3 linked regions of the Homo sapiens genome follow. The protein of the gene in region 1 purifies or fractionates together with the protein of each later gene. This does not show direct contact. Each region holds a gene or a part of one and is shown on either strand. Other genes may lie near its edges.

Region 1 (3,655 bases):
TGAGAATGCATGTAAGCCTGGGACCTGACATGTAGTAAGGATGCAATACACATTAGCCATCATTGTTAGTAGCGACAATATTGTTATGGTCTCATTAATGGTCCCTTTTACTATTGGTAAATGAGTCCCTAACCTCTCATTATTTACCACACAATTTCTTTAGTTCATATTACTAGGTCCCACTGTTCTCTCTAACCTGTTGATTTCCCCACTTTTCATTATTGAGCAGTCCTTTCAGAGTATCCTAGATGAGATTTTATTCTACTTCAAACTCCGGATCTGTTTTTTTCTGGATCTGAGGACTCTCAAATGAATTACAATGTGAACGATATGAAACAGAAGTCTAGCTATCAATTTGCTCTACTCATTTTTTTCATAGGGGATGGGTAGATGGTTGGAATGGGATTTATAGTGAATTTGATTATAAGAGTAATCAACAGACGTAGCTTTGGTTGCATGTTTATGCTAACAGTTATGGCTTCTAATCTGGCCATTTTTGCCACTGTCCCTCAGATAATAGGGAATAGCTGCTAATTTTGTTATTACTCAAAAGATTTGAGTGTCTTCACTCATTCTGACTCATTTTTTTTTCATGTTCATTCACAAACACACCCAACCTTTATACGTTGAGTAGTTCTTAGGCTTTGGTTCTTTGATGACTAAAGCTAACAAAATGTAGATCTGTTTGCCAAGTTAGGTAAGTGGTTTTATGAAAGTATATTTGGCATTAGGATGAGTTTGCATTTGAGAGAGGAAACAATACTCAAATTAACTACTCTGAGAAATGTTTTTATTCTTAATGTTTCATCAATAATTTGTTAATGTAGATAGATTTAATAGGAAAATTTCTTGCATATTAGGGCCTCATTCTGTGGAAAAGTATTATTCTTTAGTCCAAGAAATTTTAGCCAACCTAAAGTACGGAATTGACTTGTAGCATTCAAGAACCTTCCTAGCCATGGCTAGGGCTTTCCCTTGTGGCAAATCTAAAGCCTCGTGACTTTAGCTGGGTTAGTGTGAATCCTGTAAAGAGAAGATCCCGTTATACCAGGTAATTAATCTTAGATATGTATAGCAAATAGTACTAGATAGTATGGTTGGCATGTTAGAGAATAGCATATTCTGATTAATAGAGCTTGCCAGTTGAGAATTCAACAGCTTCTATAATGAAATTGCATAGGCAGGATGATTCCTTTTCCAGTAGTAGCTGTAGCAGCTAGCGTTCCCATAGCATGTAGTAATGTTTAAGAAACAAAAGGATGTTGAAGTGTAAAGAGCACTGGACTTAGACTCAGAAAACCATGGTTAAGGTAACTGCTCTGCTGTTTACAAACACTGAGATTTTAGGGAAATTCCCTAACTTTTCTCAACTCTCTGTTCAGAAATTTCTCATCTGTTAAAATAGGGATAATGCCTAACCTGTAGGGCCATTGTAAGAATCACATTCTTAATGCATGTGAAAGTGCTTTGAAAATTATAGAATATCTATAAGTATATACAGATTGTTATTAGACATGATTATTTGCCTGCTGTAGCTACTAATCACTTAAAATGTAATAGATTTCAAAGATCGCTTAGCTGAGAAATGTCAGTTTTCAATAGATGTTTTCTTAAAATGGTTAGAATAGAATCTATAATTGATTCAGAAAAACATTGAGCCATTTGTAAAATACTTGTTACAAGAAATAGTTAGAAAGTATATGTTGTAGGTGCCTCTGATTCTCTTAAAGTTCTGATTTACAGAAAACTTTGTGACCAGTCGAGTCCTTAGCTATTTACCCTTAGCTGAGCATTTTTATGTATCAGTTTAAGTAGAAAGATGATAGCTTGATTCTGCTTTAGAAAACACGCCCAGTACTTTAAAATGTAATGAAGTATATCTGTTAAGAAAAAGTCAAGAGATTTAAAATCAATGTAGTTATTTCTCCCAAAAATATTTGAATATAAAATGTATATGAAATGTCCTGCTTTTGATTTTGTTTATCTGTTTTTACTAATTAGTCTGGTTTTCGAGAACCATGGGAGACCTTTATCTTAATTTTAAAGAACTGATTTGTGCAGACAGTGAAGAGTTTCAAACCCCAGAACTGCTTGCCCTTCCCAGTGTGTTGCATAACATTTCTTTTACTGTTTAACATAACCTCATACAAGTTCACCTCAGCAAATTAGTCCCCCCTCAAAGCTCAGACTGCATTTCTTCTTATGTTCCCTTAAAAATTAGAGCAACCCTAGTATTAAAGTAAAAAAGTGGAAAAACATCTCACCTCACTTTTAGAATACATATTTTCTCACATTTTCCTTTAAAATACCTTACTAGCCTGAATGTGTGCTGAAACTTGTTTAAGATGGGATATTAGTTAACCCTGTATTTTGAGTCGTTTTCTTTTTTCGTAAATTTTTCTTCTTTCACTAATTTGAGAAGCTGGATTGATGTGAGCCCATAGAGTTTCCTTATTTTTAGGGGTCTGGATATCATAATCCTAACTCCATTCTACATAATCGAGGTCAGTCTCCTTTGTAGTCTCTAGGAAGTGCAGATGGCTCCAATGATACAACCTGAGAAACTTTAATTGAGGCTTAAAAAAGAAAGGGAAAGTAACAGTTAACAACTTTTTTCACTGTTCCTACCTAATTTGATGCTCACAACCACCCTTTAAAGGTAAGTGGACATAGTCCCCTTCATAGATGAGGGGGTAGACGTTTATTTGTTCCGGAAGAGGTAGGTTTTAACCACCTGGGTGACTGGTAGCCTTTGCTCCTCTTACTACTCTACTGCATGGTTCTCTGAGCCTCTTTAAGTCATTTCGGCCATTCAGGTCTGAAGGAAGCATCTTTGCCAGAAGTGATGCAGATTCAGGAATGGAGGAGAGAGATTATTTTAGGTTTCAGTCAGGGGGCGGAAGCTCCAAGCAACCAGCCACCTTTTGAGATGATTTTGGAGCCTTGGTGCTCCAAGAATGGTGCACTTCATGTTACAATGTTCTAAACTTGCTGGAGGGTTTACAGTGGCATTTTGAATCTGGAGACATTTCGATTGGGAATCTCCAAGTAAGTAGAAGACTTTAATTAGAGGAAACCATTGCAGATTTGAAAGGTAATAGAATCCTTTTAACACTATATATAAAAGGAACTCATTTGTCATAAAATTTAACAAATGTTGTCGTTCTGGCTAAATTTGTAATCTGGGCAAATTACTATTTTTGCTAGTGGATGTGGGTTAGCTTCTAGCTGTTTCCTCCCAACTCTAGAAAATCTTCAGGTGTCTCTTCATGCTCGGTAAGGTTGGGAGTTTAATGTGTACTTAAATTAATAGAAAGTATTCAAGTCGTAAGACTGGCCTTGCTTGTAGCTACACAGTGAAAGGGAGATGATTAGCCAGTAGTTTACACAACTCAAGGTGGGCCTTTTGAATGAAGAAAACAATTACATTGTATGCAGCTTGGTTCTTTAAGAACAACACATTATTCTCCACCACGGAGAAAGAGGATTAAAATGGACATCACAGCAGCTTTTTCGAGCTATATTGTATTTCATTTTACCCAAAATTGCTCAAACATTGAAAAACGAGGAATCAAGAAAAGTGTTGCCAGACATATATATCTGAACATACACACACACACACAGACACCAAATTGTTCAAACATTTAAAAAAAGA
Region 2 (3,432 bases), on another chromosome or scaffold:
GGGACCACCTTTCACCCGTTTGTACTTTCTGGGCCACGCCGACCCCTGGGTCGCTTGATGTAAAAGCCAAAAGCTGCTGCCTCCCACTTGGATCATGTCGCCTGGGATTTTCATCCCTCGCACAAGGACTACGGGTTCACACGGTGAACTGGGGGAAGGGAAGTGTTAGGGGGCAAGTCGCGGCACCCCCCCTTCCATAAACTCACGTCCTAACCCCCAGGACCTCAGAAGATGATCTGATTTGGAAATAGGATCATTACAGATGGAATTAGTTCAGATGATCTCATCTTGGAGTAGGGTGGGCCCCAATTCAAGGACTGGGGTCCTTAAAAAAAGGGGGCCTGGGGCAGGGCGCGGTGGCTCACGCCTGTAATCCCAGCACTTTGAGAGGCTGAGGCGGGCGGATCACGAGGTCAGGAGATCGAGACCATCCTGGCTAACACGGTGAAACCCCATCTCTACTGAAAATACAAAAAATTAGCTGGGCATGGTGGCACATGCCTGTAGTCCCAGCTACTCGGGAGGCTGAGGCAGGATAATCACTTGAACCAGGAGGAGGAGGTTGCAGTGAGCCGAGATTGTGCCACTGCACTCCAGCCTGGGTGACAGAGCAAGACTCTGTCTCAAAAAAAGAAGCGGGGGAGTGGGGGATTGAGGCCACGTGCAGTGGCTCACTACTCTAATTCCAGCACTTTGGGAGGCCGAGGCAGGAAGATTGCTTGAACTCAGAAGTTCAAGACCAGTCTGGGCAACATGGTGAGACCCTCGTCTCTACAAAAAAAAAATTATCGTGGTGGGCCGGGCGTGGTGGCTCACACCTGTAATCCCAGCACTTTGGGAGGCTGAGGCGGGCAGATCACAAGGTCAAGAGATCGAGACCATCCTGGCCAACATGGTGAAACCCCGTCTCTACTAAAAATACAAAAATTAGCCGGGCATGGTGTTGCGTGCCTGTAGTCCCAGCTACTTGGGAGGCTGAGGCAGGAGAATCGCTTGAACCTGGGAGGCGCAGGTTGCAGGGAGGCGGAGGTTGCAGTGAGCCGAGATTGCACCACTGCACTTCAGCCTGGTGACAGAGCGAGACTCGTCTCAAAAAAAAAAAAAAAAAAAAAAAAAAAAGTGACTGTGGTGGTGCACACGTATAATCCCAGCTACTTGAGAGATGACGAGGGAAGATCACTTGAGCCCAGGAGTTAAGAGGCTGCAGTGACCGATGATCATGCCACTGCACTCCAGCTTGGGTGAGAGTGGGACTCTGTCTTAGAAAGAAAAAAAAAAGTATTTGGACACAGACATGCATGCAAGGAAGGCCAATGATGCCGGCCACCACCAGGAGCTGGGAGAGGCCCAGGGCAGATCCCCTTCAGCCTTGGAGGGACCTAGCCCTGGCCACACCTTCATCTCAGACTTGCGGCCCAGAGAACTGAATGAGAATAAATGTGCGTGAAGCCCCTCAGTCCACAGGATGTGGTACTGGAAGCCCCCACTCAAGAAGGCTCCAGTGAATGCTGGCACGTTCAGCCAGGATGCCTCCGTGAAGCTGGAGACCTCTGCCCTGGGTCGGGAGGGGAAACTGCTCCAATCCAGGGACTGCCACATGGGAGGGGACGGAGCGTGCCCACCTCCCAGGGGTGAGGGGGGACCCACCTGAGATGTGTGCACATTTTATTTATTTATTGTTTTGAGACAAAGTCTCGCTGTGTCACCCAGGCTGGAGTGCAGTGGTGAAATCTCGGCTCATTGCAGCCCCTTCCTTCCAGGCTCAAGTGATCCTCCCACCTCAGCCCCGGGTAGCTGGGACTACAGGTGTGCACGAGCACACCCGGCTAATCTTTGTATTTTTTGTAGACAGAAGGTCTCACCATGTTGCCCAGGATGGTCTCGAACTCCTGGGCTCAAGCGACCTACCTACCTCGGCCTCACAAAGTGTGCACATTGTAATATCGTGATTTCATATTTGGAGAATCAGCAACCAACCAGCCAACCATGTTGCTTTTATAAGACAGAGCTGAGAAAGCAAAGCTTGGCTGTCGTCTTGGCTCTGGTACCACCCACGAGATGCGGGCGATTCTCAGCTCAGGGCGTGGAGGCGTGGTGTGGGGGAGTCTATTTGCCATTTTTGTTTGTCAGCAGGGGGCAGGGGTTCTCAAAGATTGCAAAATGCTGCTGCAGGTCAGGAAGGTTATTTTGGGTGCCTGTGGGGGAGGTGAAACAAGGTCCCATGACTGTTTTGCAGAACCTTGTCTGTGGAGGGTAGAGGTTGCGGCAGGGGCCTGTGGGCCTTACTTGGTGAGAAGGTAGGTCTAGCTGGCTCCATTCAGTATTTGAGACATTTGGAATTTGTCTGCATTTAAAACCAAGAGATCACACACACCTGTCTGGATTTGGAGTTTCTCTTGAAAACTCGCCAGTCCGGCCGTCTGAGCCTGCACTGACGCCTGGTGAAGCTGTGCAGGGGCCGCCCCTCTCCCTTTCACCACAGTCCTCTCCACTCCCTTTCGCCTCTCCCTGGCCTGCTGCACTCACTGATAGGAAATTCTGACCCCAGACTCGGAGCAGCCTTCCCGTGGTTCGGTTTTTGCTTCCGCGAAAAAGCCAAAGGCCTTGGCCAGAGAGCCAGCTGTTCCTACCTCTACCCCACGCTTCCAAGGCAACCTTCTCCACTTATCTTAGGCCGAGAGACAGCTCTTCAAGAACGTACATGGATCCTGATTTTCTCACGAAGTCCCGATGGAACCCTGTGCTGTTGAGACATCAGTGTGTAAAACTCTCTGTGTCCCTGTTGGGCTGTCCAGACAGTCTGGACTCTTGTAAATTTGAGATTTAATTAAAGGAAACAAACCAAATAGGACTGCGGAACAATTTAAATAAAAGCACACACCAGCCTGGGCGCAGTGGCTCATGTCAGTTAAACCTAGTGCTTTGGGAGGCCGAGGCAGGAGGATCACTTGAGCCAAGGAGTTCAAGACCACCCTGGGCAACATAGCGAGACCCTATCTCTAAAAATATATATATATAAGGCCAAGTGCAGTGGCTCACGCCTGTCATCCCAGCACTTTGGGAGGCTGAGGCAGGCAGATCACCTGAGGTCAGGAGTTCAAGACCAGCCTGGCCAAGATGGTGAGACCCCATCTGTACTAAAAAGTACAAAAATTAGCTGGGCATGGCGGCGGGTGCCTGTAATCCCAGCTACTTGGGAGGCTGAGGCAGGAGAATCACTTGAACCTGGGAGGCGGAGGTTGCAGTGAGATGAGATCGTGCCACTGCATTCCAGCCTGGGCAACAGAGTGAGACTTGGTCTCAGAAACAGAATAAAAAAATAAAAAATTATAGCCAGTCAGGGTGGCATGCACATGTGGTCCCAGCTATCTGGAAGGATGGCTTGGACCCAGGAGGTTGAGGCTGCGGTGAGCCGAGATCGCACCACTGCAC
Region 3 (3,655 bases), on another chromosome or scaffold:
AGGTTTCATTAAAGCAGTCAAAATTCAGGGAGAATGTCTATAGATTTCATTTCTCTATCTTCACTGAATTGATTGAGGACTGATGTTACAGATTTTTTTCTCTAAAACATTTCCATTTGATTTCTCACTGTATTTGTTCAATTTGCTAGTCATAAGATTTCTTTATATGGGCTACTTTTATCTGCTCTGAGTTTCTATTGCTTTCCATTATCTCAAATAAATGACTTGTATGCTCCATCATCTAATATTCATTAGATGAATATTAGGTGGTGCAATAGAAGCTAGCCTAACTGAAGAAGCTTACCGATGGTTGTATTTCACATTGGAAGTAGAAGCTAGAGACAAGATTTTCTCACTTTAAGCAATTTTGATGGGAGAAAAAAAGATAATTAAGCACTCTGACCCCTTTCTAAAGCTGAATTAAATGCATATTTTGATAAAAGATTTCTGTGCCTCTAATAGTTTAAAAAGTCAGTCTGATGTAATGTAGATGTCAGTGTAGAAATTCCTGTAATATTTCAATAATCTGAGGACAACTGTACTACATCCTTAAAATTGGGATGGTCCTAGACAATCTGTGACTGATGGTTACTTTAGTTAGAGAAGACCATCTCCACATCTGTTCTAAGGCCATGTTATCTAAGTATAGGTAGCTTAGTTTTTTACTATGAGTTTCTGTATCTATAATAGATTAAAAGTTTAAATTGTAAAAAATGAAACTGAAAGTACTAGAAGAAAACATGGAATGACTTTTTTCTGAAATTCTGGAGTAGGAAAGGCATTTCTAAGCAAAACAGTCTAGAAACCCAGACACTAGAAAAAGATGTGACCTAAAAGGAAAAACTTCTGCCAGCAAAAAATAAAAGGCAAATGACAAACTGAGAAGAAAAAAATAAGTGATGGTAAAGTGCGACCTTCCTCAATATATATTTCATGAATATATACATCAGTTTTAATGAAAAAGTAAAAAAAAAAAAAATCCAGCAACCTGAGAGTCAAATGGGCAAAGACCAAGCATTTCAAACAAAAAGAAAAAAGCTTATAAAAATTTTTTAAAAAAAATTTTAAATGCTCAATTTTACTCAGCTGAGATAAATGCAAAAGGATATGAACTATTTTTCAAGGAAGTGACTGCAAAGACAAAGTTTGATAGTATACCACTTTGGAGAGGGAATAGAGACACAAGCTCTATTAATGTATGGTCAGTACAGCTTCTTTGGAGGTAAACATTTTGGCAACAGCTGTCAAAATTGAATATACACATACCTTTTGGCCCACCTCTCCCATGTCTAGAAATTTAATCCATTCATATGCTTGCACAAATAGATAAAAACTTGCAAGATACTCGTGTTAGCATCAGTAAACCTATAAACCTAAATTACACCAGTAAGGGAATGGCTGACTAAATTTATGATACATTCATACATTGGAATTCCGCGCAACATAAAATGAAGAATGTCGGCCTGTGCTGATATAGCTGGATAACCAAGATTATCTTTAAGGTTCAGAAGAGTTGTGTAGTGTTGTCCTTTACGGTATTAAAAAAAAATGTACATGTGAATATGGAAAATTTCTAGATAAATCATAAGAAATTGCCTTTGAGAGTAAAACTTGGTGGGGGAGGGAAAATCCTTGCTTAAAATTATCATGTGCATGTATTAGTTTTTCAGTTTAAAAAGAAAAATAGTGGGGACACAGGAAATAGTGGACAGTAGATACCTATCTCAGATCCAGTCAGGAAACTAGCATTGGGTATGTGGCTGATTGATGTGGATACCAAGTTATTTCAGACACTAGAATAAACAGATTTAGCTGGCAACTGAAGATGCATTAAAACTACCAAGACAGCTGGGCGCGGTGGCTCACCCCTGTAATGGGAGGCCGAGGCGGGTGGGTTGCCTGAGGTCAGGAGTTTGAGACCAGCCTGGCTAACATGGTAAAACCCCATCTCTACTAAAAATTCAAAAATTAGCCAGGCGTGGTGGCCCACACCTGTAGTAGTCCAGTTACTCCGGAGTCTTAGACAGGATAATCGCTTGAACCCAGGAGGTGGAGGTTGCAATGAGCCGAGATCATGCCACTGCACTCCAGCCTAGGTGACAGCAAGACTCCATCTCAAAAAAAAAAATTATTAAAGCATAGAAATTATATGTATGCACGTATATACACATTATATGTGTGTGAGAGAACACAACACTGCTTTTGTGATTTTTTTTTTTTAGATCAAATCACTCTTTTATGGTTAAAAGCAGGGACTCAGTCTGAAGCCAAACTGCTTGAGTTAGAATTTCAGCTCCACTACTTACTAGCTGAGTAACCTTGGGCAAGTTATTTAACTTCCCTGTGCCTCATGTTATTCATCTGTGAAAAGCAGATAATCCCACAGCTGAAAATTACATGAATTAATAAATGTAAAGCACATAGAACAATGGCAGGCACATAAAGTACTCCCTAAGTACCTGTTACATAATGTGCATTAAGCAGTATGCCCCATATCATGTAGTTTCAAGCTTTTCTTATGCCAGAACTATACTGTCCTGTTTTAGGACCTGAAGGTGGCAAGACAGTAGAAAGCAGGAGTAAGAGTGGAAATGAAAGCAGGTAATAGATTCCCTAGAACTGAGTTAATGCCCCTCTAAACTGTTCTGATACTACCCTGTATTGAATTTATGATGGCCTTAGCCATTCTTTCTCCATTTGACTGCTATAAAACGGAGATAAGGGAATGAGCAATTTATGAGCTGGGAATTTATTATCAGAAAACTGACCAATGTTATCTCTTGCAGAAGGTCCTACAGTGTAGGGGAAGCAATGGAAGAACTTCTACCTGATGGACAAATATGGGCTAATATGGATCCAGAAGAACGAATGTTGGCAGCTGCTACAGCTTTTACCCACATCTGTGCAGGGCAGGGTGAAGGAGATGTCAGGAGAGAAGCCCAATCTATCCAATATGATCCCTACAGTAAAGCTTCAGTAGCCCCAGGGAAGCGACCTGCTCTTCCTGTGCAACTACAGTACCCACATGTAGAAAGTAATGTCCCTTCAGAAACAGTCTCTGAGGCCTCCCAAAGACTCCGAAAGCCAGTGATGAAGAGAAAGGTGCTGCGCAGAAAGCCAGATGGGGAAGTATTAGTAACAGATGAGTCGATTATCAGTGAATCAGAATCTGGTACAGAAAATGATCAGGATCTCTGGGACTTAAGACAAAGGCTGATGAATGTACAGTTCCAGGAAGACAAGGAATCTTCATTTGATGTTTCACAAAAATTTAACCTACCACATGAATACCAAGGAATTTCTCAAGATCAGCTCATTTGCTCTCTACAAAGAGAAGGAATGGGCTCTCCAGCTTACGAACAAGACCTGATTGTTGCCAGCAGACCCAAGTCCTTTATTCTCCCAAAGCTGGACCAGTTAAGCCGAAACCGGGGCAAGACAGACCGGGTAGCCCGGTATTTTGAGTACAAACGGGACTGGGACTCAATACGTTTACCTGGTGAAGATCATAGAAAGGAATTACGCTGGGGTGTCCGAGAGCAGATGCTTTGTCGAGCAGAACCCCAATCCAAACCTCAGCATATATATGTCCCAAACAATTATCTAGTACCAACAGAGAAGAAAAGGTCTGCACTCCGTTGGGGTGTTCGTTGTG

Evidence for each region.
Region 2: the proteins of MAP2K4 (region 1) and TNFAIP8L1 purify together in Homo sapiens (affinity purification with western blotting, with the first as the bait; one study listed by BioGRID). This does not show direct contact.
Region 3: the proteins of MAP2K4 (region 1) and PUS3 purify together in Homo sapiens (affinity purification with mass spectrometry; one large-scale study listed by BioGRID and IntAct). This does not show direct contact.

The regions. Positions count from the first base shown.
Region 1 is NC_000017.11:12,023,877-12,027,531, forward strand, and holds part of MAP2K4 (dual specificity mitogen-activated protein kinase kinase 4), read left to right. Parts: intron 1-3,655. UniProt on the Homo sapiens protein: Dual specificity protein kinase which acts as an essential component of the MAP kinase signal transduction pathway. Essential component of the stress-activated protein kinase/c-Jun N-terminal kinase (SAP/JNK) signaling pathway.
Region 2 is NC_000019.10:4,652,679-4,656,110, forward strand, and holds the end of TNFAIP8L1 (tumor necrosis factor alpha-induced protein 8-like protein 1), read left to right. Parts: 3' UTR 1-2,890; downstream 2,891-3,432. UniProt on the Homo sapiens protein: Acts as a negative regulator of mTOR activity.
Region 3 is NC_000011.10:125,896,558-125,900,212, forward strand, and holds part of PUS3 (tRNA pseudouridine(38/39) synthase), read right to left. Parts: coding exon of another isoform or gene 2,812-3,655; exon of another isoform or gene 2,787-2,811; intron 2,602-2,786; exon of another isoform or gene 2,547-2,601; intron 1-2,546. Other genes in the region: centriolar and ciliogenesis-associated protein HYLS1, read left to right, coding at 2,812-3,655. UniProt on the Homo sapiens protein: Formation of pseudouridine at position 39 in the anticodon stem and loop of transfer RNAs.